Homo sapiens: one gene and its partner. Each later gene encodes a partner of the first gene's protein in a complex. Each region holds a gene or a part of one and is shown on either strand. Other genes may lie near its edges. The genes, in order: CDHR2 and MYO7B.

Evidence for each region.
Region 2: CDHR2 (region 1) and MYO7B share a complex: the UniProt entries of both Homo sapiens proteins name them as parts of the IMAC/intermicrovillar adhesion complex.

What each region holds. Positions count from the first base shown.
Region 1 is NC_000005.10:176,547,188-176,551,097, reverse strand, and holds the start of CDHR2 (cadherin-related family member 2 precursor), read right to left. Parts: upstream 1,757-3,910; 5' UTR 1,684-1,756; intron 1-1,683. UniProt on the Homo sapiens protein: Intermicrovillar adhesion molecule that forms, via its extracellular domain, calcium-dependent heterophilic complexes with CDHR5 on adjacent microvilli. Thereby, controls the packing of microvilli at the apical membrane of epithelial cells.
Region 2 is NC_000002.12:127,533,996-127,537,905, forward strand, and holds the start of MYO7B (unconventional myosin-VIIb), read left to right. Parts: upstream 1-1,687; 5' UTR 1,688-1,836; intron 1,837-3,910. UniProt on the Homo sapiens protein: Myosins are actin-based motor molecules with ATPase activity. Their highly divergent tails are presumed to bind to membranous compartments, which would be moved relative to actin filaments.

The DNA of each region.
Region 1 (3,910 bases):
GGCACAGGTTGCAGTGAGCCGAGATAGCGCCTTGCACTCCAGCCTGGGCAACAGAGTGAGAATCCGTCTCAAAAAGAAAGTGCTTAGGGAAGGACCAAAAAGGACACAGAGAAGAATCAGGGAGACTCTGGCCCCCACGCCATGAGATGTGTAGTCTCCAGGAATCCTCACTGGTCCCACCTGGCCCAGGAGGTGCCAGCTCTTCAGCCTTGGCTGAGAGGAGGCTTCAGCCGCATCTCAGAGCAGTCCACGGTGCCAAGATTTTCTAGAATTTGGAACCACTGGGAGTGAGGATACCCGGACTGCCCAGGACCTCCAGGAGGGTCAGGGTGGGGAGGTGGGTCCTCCTTCAGTGTGGGGAGCCCCCGGGGTGCACTCAGCCACGATGCTACAGAGCTCCCCCAGCACCGCCACCGCTACACGGCCAGCTCGCCATGCACTTTCACTTCTGCTTTTTCATTTACTTCTCACAGCTGTTCCCAAGCAGGAATTATCCTATCCTATTATTCCAAGGAAACCGAGGCTCATAGATGCCCAGAGATGGGTGAGCCAGGGGCAGCAGGTTAGACCCAGGCTGCCTCCAAATCCAGGGGTCCCTGGGCAAGCCTTGGTCTGGGCTCCGTTGATCCAGGAGGCCGTGCCTGCACCCACAGAGCGGACTCCAGCCGAGCCTGGGTGCCCGGAGCAAGGATGTGGGACCTGAGCACGCAGCTCCCCGCCACGGGCCCTCCCAGTGCCTATGGCCCAGGCCACCTGGCCCAGCAGACACATACAGACTCAAACAGCCCTGGGTTCAGATGGCAGCATTTCACATATTTGTTGTGCAACCCCAGGCAAGCCCTCTCCCCTCTCCAGGCCTCAGTTTCCCCTGCTGAGAAGCAGAGTGAGGATAAAAATCAAGGGGTCTACACACGGGCCATGACTTGTTTCCATCTGCCGGACCTCGGTGCTCACTGGGACCCTGCCTTGTGCCTGGTGCCCAACCCAGCACAGGCCTGCCTGAGTGACGCAGCATGGCCCCGACTCTCAGCTGGGTCACCACCTCCTCTACCAGGGCAGAGAGATGTGCAAGGCCCGGACTGGGCAGAGCTGGGGCCAGCCTGGGTCAGTCCCTGCCTGACACTTCCTAGCACTGGCTGAGGTGGCACTGGGCTCGGTCATAGGCCACATGCTCACCTTTGCCTCAGGGCTTTTCAGGCCCTTTCTGGAACTCTTCTCATCCCCATTTGATAAATGAGGAAACGGAGGCCCAGAAGAGTTAAGTAGCCCACCAAGGTCAGGGTGGAGCTGGGATGTGAACCGAGCAGCTGGGGTAAGAGCCCAGGTCAGCTTCCCCGTCCTCAACCCCTGAGCATCCTATGAAGGGGTCAGGCCAGTTACCTCGTTTCCCTGGGGTGCCTGCCTCCCTTCCATCCTCTGAAGAATCATCCCTTGAGGACTTGGATGGGAAGGGGGCCATCAGCCCCCAGGGAAGGAGGTATTATTATCCCATGTTTACCAAAGAAACAGGCCTCACAGCAGGCTGGGACCTGACCCGGCTCTGCCCCATCTAGCGTGTGACTTCCCCTGCCCAGCTTCAGGGGAGACTTTTAAAGACCCCCAAGCTTGCCTTGGCTCTAGGGATCCCCCCAACCCCCACATTTCTCTGGCCCAGAGACCCCCGATGAGCTGGATAGTCCCTACCTGTGTCCCCTTCGCCACGGAGGCGGCAGGCAGGCGCCGGACAGGCGCTGGCACACAGGTGGGCACCCTCTGCGGCCTGCAGCTATGTGGCCAGCAGACTTTGGCACCATCTCCACCTCCACTGAGCAATCATTAACCCTGCCAGAGACCACACCTCCCAGGAGGGGTCGACTCCTAATGAGGCAGAGTACAGCTGGGGGCGCCGGACAGGAGGAAGGGACCAAGGCGCCAGAGCTCCTGGCGCTCCTGGGGCTGGAGGCCCACACCACAGGAGAAGGGGCCTGGCCGACCCTGAGCCCAGAGGACCTGGGAACAAGGCCCAACACTGGGGCAGGCTGGAGGCGGGGACGGTGACAGTCAGAAGGTGATGCCAGAGCCCCCGTCCCCTCCCTGCTACGAGTCTTCAGTGACAGGGGATCTGTGGACAAGTGGGGGATTGAGTCAGGAGAGGGAAGTGGTAAAACAGTGTAACAATCAAACACTGTGTGGCCAGACCAGCCCCTGTGAGGTTCTCGTGGAGGACTGGGGGCTAGCTGAGCCTGGACAACCCACTTTCGAGCCTGTTGACACTGATCTCACCCCGCATTGAGACCCTCAAAAGGCATCTGCCCGTCCCCAGGGGCTTCATCCACTCCCAAGTTGCCTTTTTTTTTTAATTATTTATTTATTTTTGAGTCAGAGTCTTGCTCTGTCACCCAGGCTGGAGTGAAGTGGCACAATCTTGGCTCACTGCAATCTCTGCTTCCTGGGTTCAAGCAATTCTCCTACCTCAGCCTCTCGAGTAACTGGGATTACAGGCGTGGGCCTCCACACCCGGCTAATTTTTTTTGTATTTTTAGTAGAAACAGGGTTTCACCATGTTGGCCAGGCTGGTCTCGAACTCCTAACCTCAGGCGATCCGCCTGCCTCGGCCTTCCAAAATGCTGGGATTACAGGGATGAGCCACGGAGCTCGGCCCCCAGGCTGGCTTTAAGCGCTGCCCGATGTGGTGGCCTCCCGAAGGGGCTCAGCCACAAGTCCTTCTTATCCTCACTTTGGCCCAGCCATCACAGTTGACACAGAAAGGGGACCCTGGGCACAACTTTCTTAAGGCACACCACTGAGTCGTCACCATTGGGTGGCCCTCTTCTTGTGGGCAGAGGACATGTCTAATTCACAATAGATATATAGTCATGCACCATATATCTGTGTTTTGGTCAACAACGAACCACACATATAATAGCGGTCCCATAAGAGTATAATATCATCTTTCATGGCACCCTTTCTGTGTTTACATGCACAAATACTTACCCCTGTGTTACAGTTGCCTGCAGCGTGCGGTACAGTCCCAGGCTGCATAGGTTAGCAGCCCAGGAGCACAGGCGGTGGTATAGAGACTGGGTGTGTAGTAGGTGGTACCGCCTAGGTTTGTGTAAGTCACTGTGTGATGTTCACACAATGACGAAATTGCCTGATGACACATTTCCCAGAAGGTGTCCCCGTTGTTAAGGGTTGTGTTGACTGTATATCAGGCAGTTGCTATAGTCAGGCATTTTAATAGTTTGCTTCCCAACTCTCCAAATGTAAAACATAGTAACAAAATTTATACGCCACCAGCATAAAAAGAAGAAACCCAGATGAAGGGAAGTCAAGTGAGAAAAATAAGGGTAATCTACGCCTGAATTGAGGCCATAAAATACTTGTCTTGAGCTGGGGGCACTGCTGTGCACCTGTAGTCCCAGCTACTTGGGAGGCTGCAGCAGTAGGATGGCTTGAGGCCAGGATTTCTGTGCTGTAGGGCACTATGCTGATGGGGTGTCCACACTAAATTCAGCACTAATATGGTGAACCCCAAGGAGCAGAGGACCACTAGGTTGCCTCAGAAAGGCTGAACCAGCCCAGGTCAGAAACAGAGCAGGTCAAACTTCAGGTGCTGATCAGTAGTGAGACTGTGCCTATGAATAGCTACTGCACTCCAGCCTAGACAACAAGAGCTTCTCTCTCAAAAAATAAACAAATTATATATATATATATATTTGCCTTCAAGTTCTGGGTAATTGTAGAGATGGGTCATGAATCAGGTTCTGAGCTTCCCCCCAGGCAAAGAAAAAAGGGAATTGAGATCCATTGAGTCCAGCATCCATCCATTTTAAAACATTTGCATAGGCTGGTGGCTCGCGCCTGTAATCCCAGCACTTTGGGAGGCTGAGGCGGGTGGATCACCAGGTCAAGAATTCGAGACCAGCCT
Region 2 (3,910 bases), on another chromosome or scaffold:
GGATGACCAGACCCCTTTTTTACCCAACACAAGGCCTGTGGCTGACCAGGTAACTACCTGCCCCTATTATCCACCCGCCTTCAAAGCCTTGCATAAATGAGCTCCCCTCGCCCTCCTGCTCACTTCCAGGGACTGCCTGGCCCCTCCAGTCTGACCCCACCCAGGGCCCACTGCGGTTGCACTTCCCTTCTAAACAGTCTGTATTTGCCTTAAGCCCAAATCCCCCTTGATCAAGTGCCAGCCCAAGCCTGCCCAATTTGTTGCCAGGTACCCTCCTGGGAACCTTGTTGTCTGATGGCCTTTGTCTCTAAGGCTTCCTGATGGCCCCAGACATGTCCCAGGTGTATGCTCCTTTCACACTCAACACAGAACACTCTCTTGACCAGGTGTCCAAGCAGTTCTCCAGCAGACTCCGTCTGGATGTCCTATAATTCAATTCAATCAGACACTGTCAACCTGGAGTCATAGATCCCACAGGTTAAGGGCTCAGTCCCACAAAACTGCCCCACTTCAAATGCAGTCTCAAGTCCTAGGTTGCCACCTATACTTCTGACCAATTGGCTATAAATCGGGGTTCCCATGCCCCACACCTGAGGTTGGATTTGCTAGCATAGCTCATGGAACTCAGGACGGCACTCATATTGACCAGTTCGTGGGAAAAGATTTTACAAAGGATTACAGATGAGCAGCCGAATAAACACGCACAGGTGAGTTGTGTGGGAAGGTCATGGAGCTTCCATGCCCTCTCCCGCATGCCACCCCCCAGGGACCTCAGATGTGTGGAAGCTTGTCAAATCTTGTTCAAGAGTTTTACCTTCCCAGAGGTCAGTAGGCGGGGCTGAAAGTTCCAACCCTCTATTCACTAGGTCTTTCTGGTGACTGACCCCATGCTGAGGCTAGGTAGGGCCCCCACATGGTCACCTCCTCAGCATAACTTCAGGTGTTATCAAACGGACTCATTATGAGATGATCACTTGGGAAATTTTTTGTTTGTTTGTTTGTTTGAGACGGAGTCTCGCTCTGTCACCCAGGCTGGAGTGCAGTGGCCCGATCTTGGCTCACTGCAAGCTCCACCTCCCCGGTTCACGCCATTCTCCTTCCTCAACCTCCAGCTGGGACTACAGGCGCCCGCCACCACGCCCAGCTAATTTTTTTGTGTGTGTGTTTTTAGTAGAGATGGGGTTTCACCGTGTTAGCCAGGATGGTCTTGATCTCCTGACCTTGTGATCCGCCTGCCTCGGCCTCCCAAAATGCTGGGATTACAGGCGTGAGCCACCATGCCCGACGATCACTTTGGAAATTCTAAGGGTTTTAGGAGTTCTGTGACACCAACCGGGAACAAGGACCAAATATACTGTATTTTATATTATACTACCACCCTCAATTAGAGCTTGGGGTGCTTGGGGGCAGAGCTCCTGCCATGCAGCACCTGGGAAGATGCTGAGCCCCCGGATGGTCAGCTGACTGTCACCATGGGATCTGGCTGGTGGCCAGAGCAGGTGCACAGACTGCAAACCCTGGTGGCCTCCGGGCAGCATGCATCGCTGCTCTGCAGAAGGGGCCTGGGTTAAAGAGCAGGTATCATGAGGCTCTGCCAGCTGGGGCTGAGGGAGGCGTGTGGGAGTGGAAGTGCCTGGAGCCCAGGGACAAAGTCCTGTAATAAATTACGTGGGCCCAGAGTGCTCCCAGTCATTTCCTCTTGGAGCCCTACCTCTTCTTCCTCTGTCCCTTACTCCCTGACACACCCGGAGTCCCAACATTGCCTCCTTTCCTGGCTCTTTCAGGGTGCCCAGGGTGGAGGGGAAGGGGAGTCAGCCAGACCCCCATCCTGACAAGGTAAGGGCGTGCCGGGGGCGTGTCTGCCAGCGGGGAGTAGGGGGTCACCTCTCTGAAGAGGGTCGCTGGGCAGGAGGCAGGTCCCCTGGAAATAAGATGGAACAGGTCTGAGGGATAGAGAGTGGAGAAGCCCTTCAGGAGCCTGGAAACCAGAAACCGCAGCAGGGGACTCAGTCCATCGGGCTGAAGGGCAGCACCTGGGGGGCTGAGGAGGAGGAGGAGGGGGAGAAGCTGTCTAGCCCTCTGCTGTAGAAGGGCAAACTCCCTGCAGGAGGGGAACGGCAGGTGCCAAGGCTGCTCCCACCCTGAAGCCTCCTCACAGCTAGAGGGCCTCACTGTGGAATCATGGGACATCATGGATAGCCTGGGTCCCATGATGAGCCCCTGCCAGATGTCAGCTGTGCCGTGTGTGACATCCCACTGCGTCCTCGCAACACAGTGGTGGAATTGCCTCCATTTTATGGACACAGAGACTGAGGACCATGGAAGCGAAGGTGCCCACGGGAAGAAGCAGAGCCGGATTCGACTCCAAAGCCCAGGCTTATCCGCCTTACCCATGTACCTTGGGCAATTGGCTTTAGTCACCTCTGGAAGGCTGGGACCCTAGGGAGAGGCAGGACAGGTCTGGGGTGTGGTGGGGGGGGGGGTGGGGGAAGAGGTGGCTGAGGAGAGGGACCGCACCGGGGCTCACATGGGCTGTCCCCCTTGAGCTGTCCAGGTGGTGTGTGTCCCATCCCCATTTCACAGAGGACGAAACTTGAGACACAGAGATTGTGAGAGCTGGCCCAGGTCAGACAGCTGGTGGGTGTGGGGCCCCCAACCCAGATCCCCCAAATTCTCCATGACGAGGCCTCCCCTTCAGGCTCCACTTTGTAACCCTGGACTTGAATTTTGCTCTAATTTATCAGAACCCTGCACTTTGTTTAGGATTTTAGTTCAGAGATTCACACACACCCTCAGTGAATCATTGTTAGGAACCACTCAGCTCATCAGCCCACCCCATCTCCCTGGACCTGCTGGGGGCCCTACGTCTGTCCTCAGATGCCACCTCTAAGAGAATCCTCCCCAGGCGGCTGTCTTGGGGCCTGCTGCATCCACAGCTCTAGCACGGGGCTCTGTGGAGAGGCGGCACCACAGGGATGACCTATATGTGTTGATATTGCTTCCTGTTTTACATATGTCAAAAGACAAAATTATAAAAAATTTATCTTAAAGATCTTAATTGGCTTTTATTTGCAATTCTAGAATTGGGCAACACCCCACTTATAGAATACAATGAATGATCTGATGAGCCGAGCAGAGGAGTTTGGCTTTATAGACAGAATGGGGCTGAGAGAAACAGAAAACAAAAGGGGATTAGTCATTTCAATTTATTTTCCTTGTAAAGGATAGAGCTGAGGGAACTTCCTTATCATGCCCGCTGAAACTGGCCTGTCTGGGGCTCCAGCTATTGTCTCTCTCCTGATTCTTGGAAGGTCAGATAACCTTCGTTTGGGCCTGGTGGTGTGGAACTTCAGCATGAGTGACTCCATTTTGGTCTGGTCTGTTGGCCTTGTGTAGGAGCTCAGACAAAACCAATGGCCTCCATACATTTTACTTAACACATGTATTTAAATGATGTTTGTGTGCCCATTCTTGGTCCACATACCAAGCTGTTCAGGGAGGAAGAGCCAGAATCTTAGCACATTTTTCACAGAAGAGATGAAGAAGGGTAAAGGAGACTGGGCATGGTGGTGGCTCATGCCTGTAATCCCAGCACTTTGGGAGGCCGAGGTGGGAGGATTGCTTGAGCCCACAACATGGGGAGACTCCATCTCTATAGAAGAATAAGAAGAAGGAATAGGAGGAGGAGGAAGAAGAAGAGGAGGAGGAGGAGGGGGAGGAGAAGGAGAAGGAGGAGGAGGAGAAGGAAGGATTTGACCAAGGCCACTGGACTATGAGCTCCTCGAGAGCCTGGGCTGGGTTTCTCTGGGGTTTTTCCATCTCCTGCACATGCCCAGGCCTCAGCAGAGAATGGACACTTGGCACATGCTGAATGAATGAATGGAGTAGCTAGCGGCAGAAGACGAGCTCA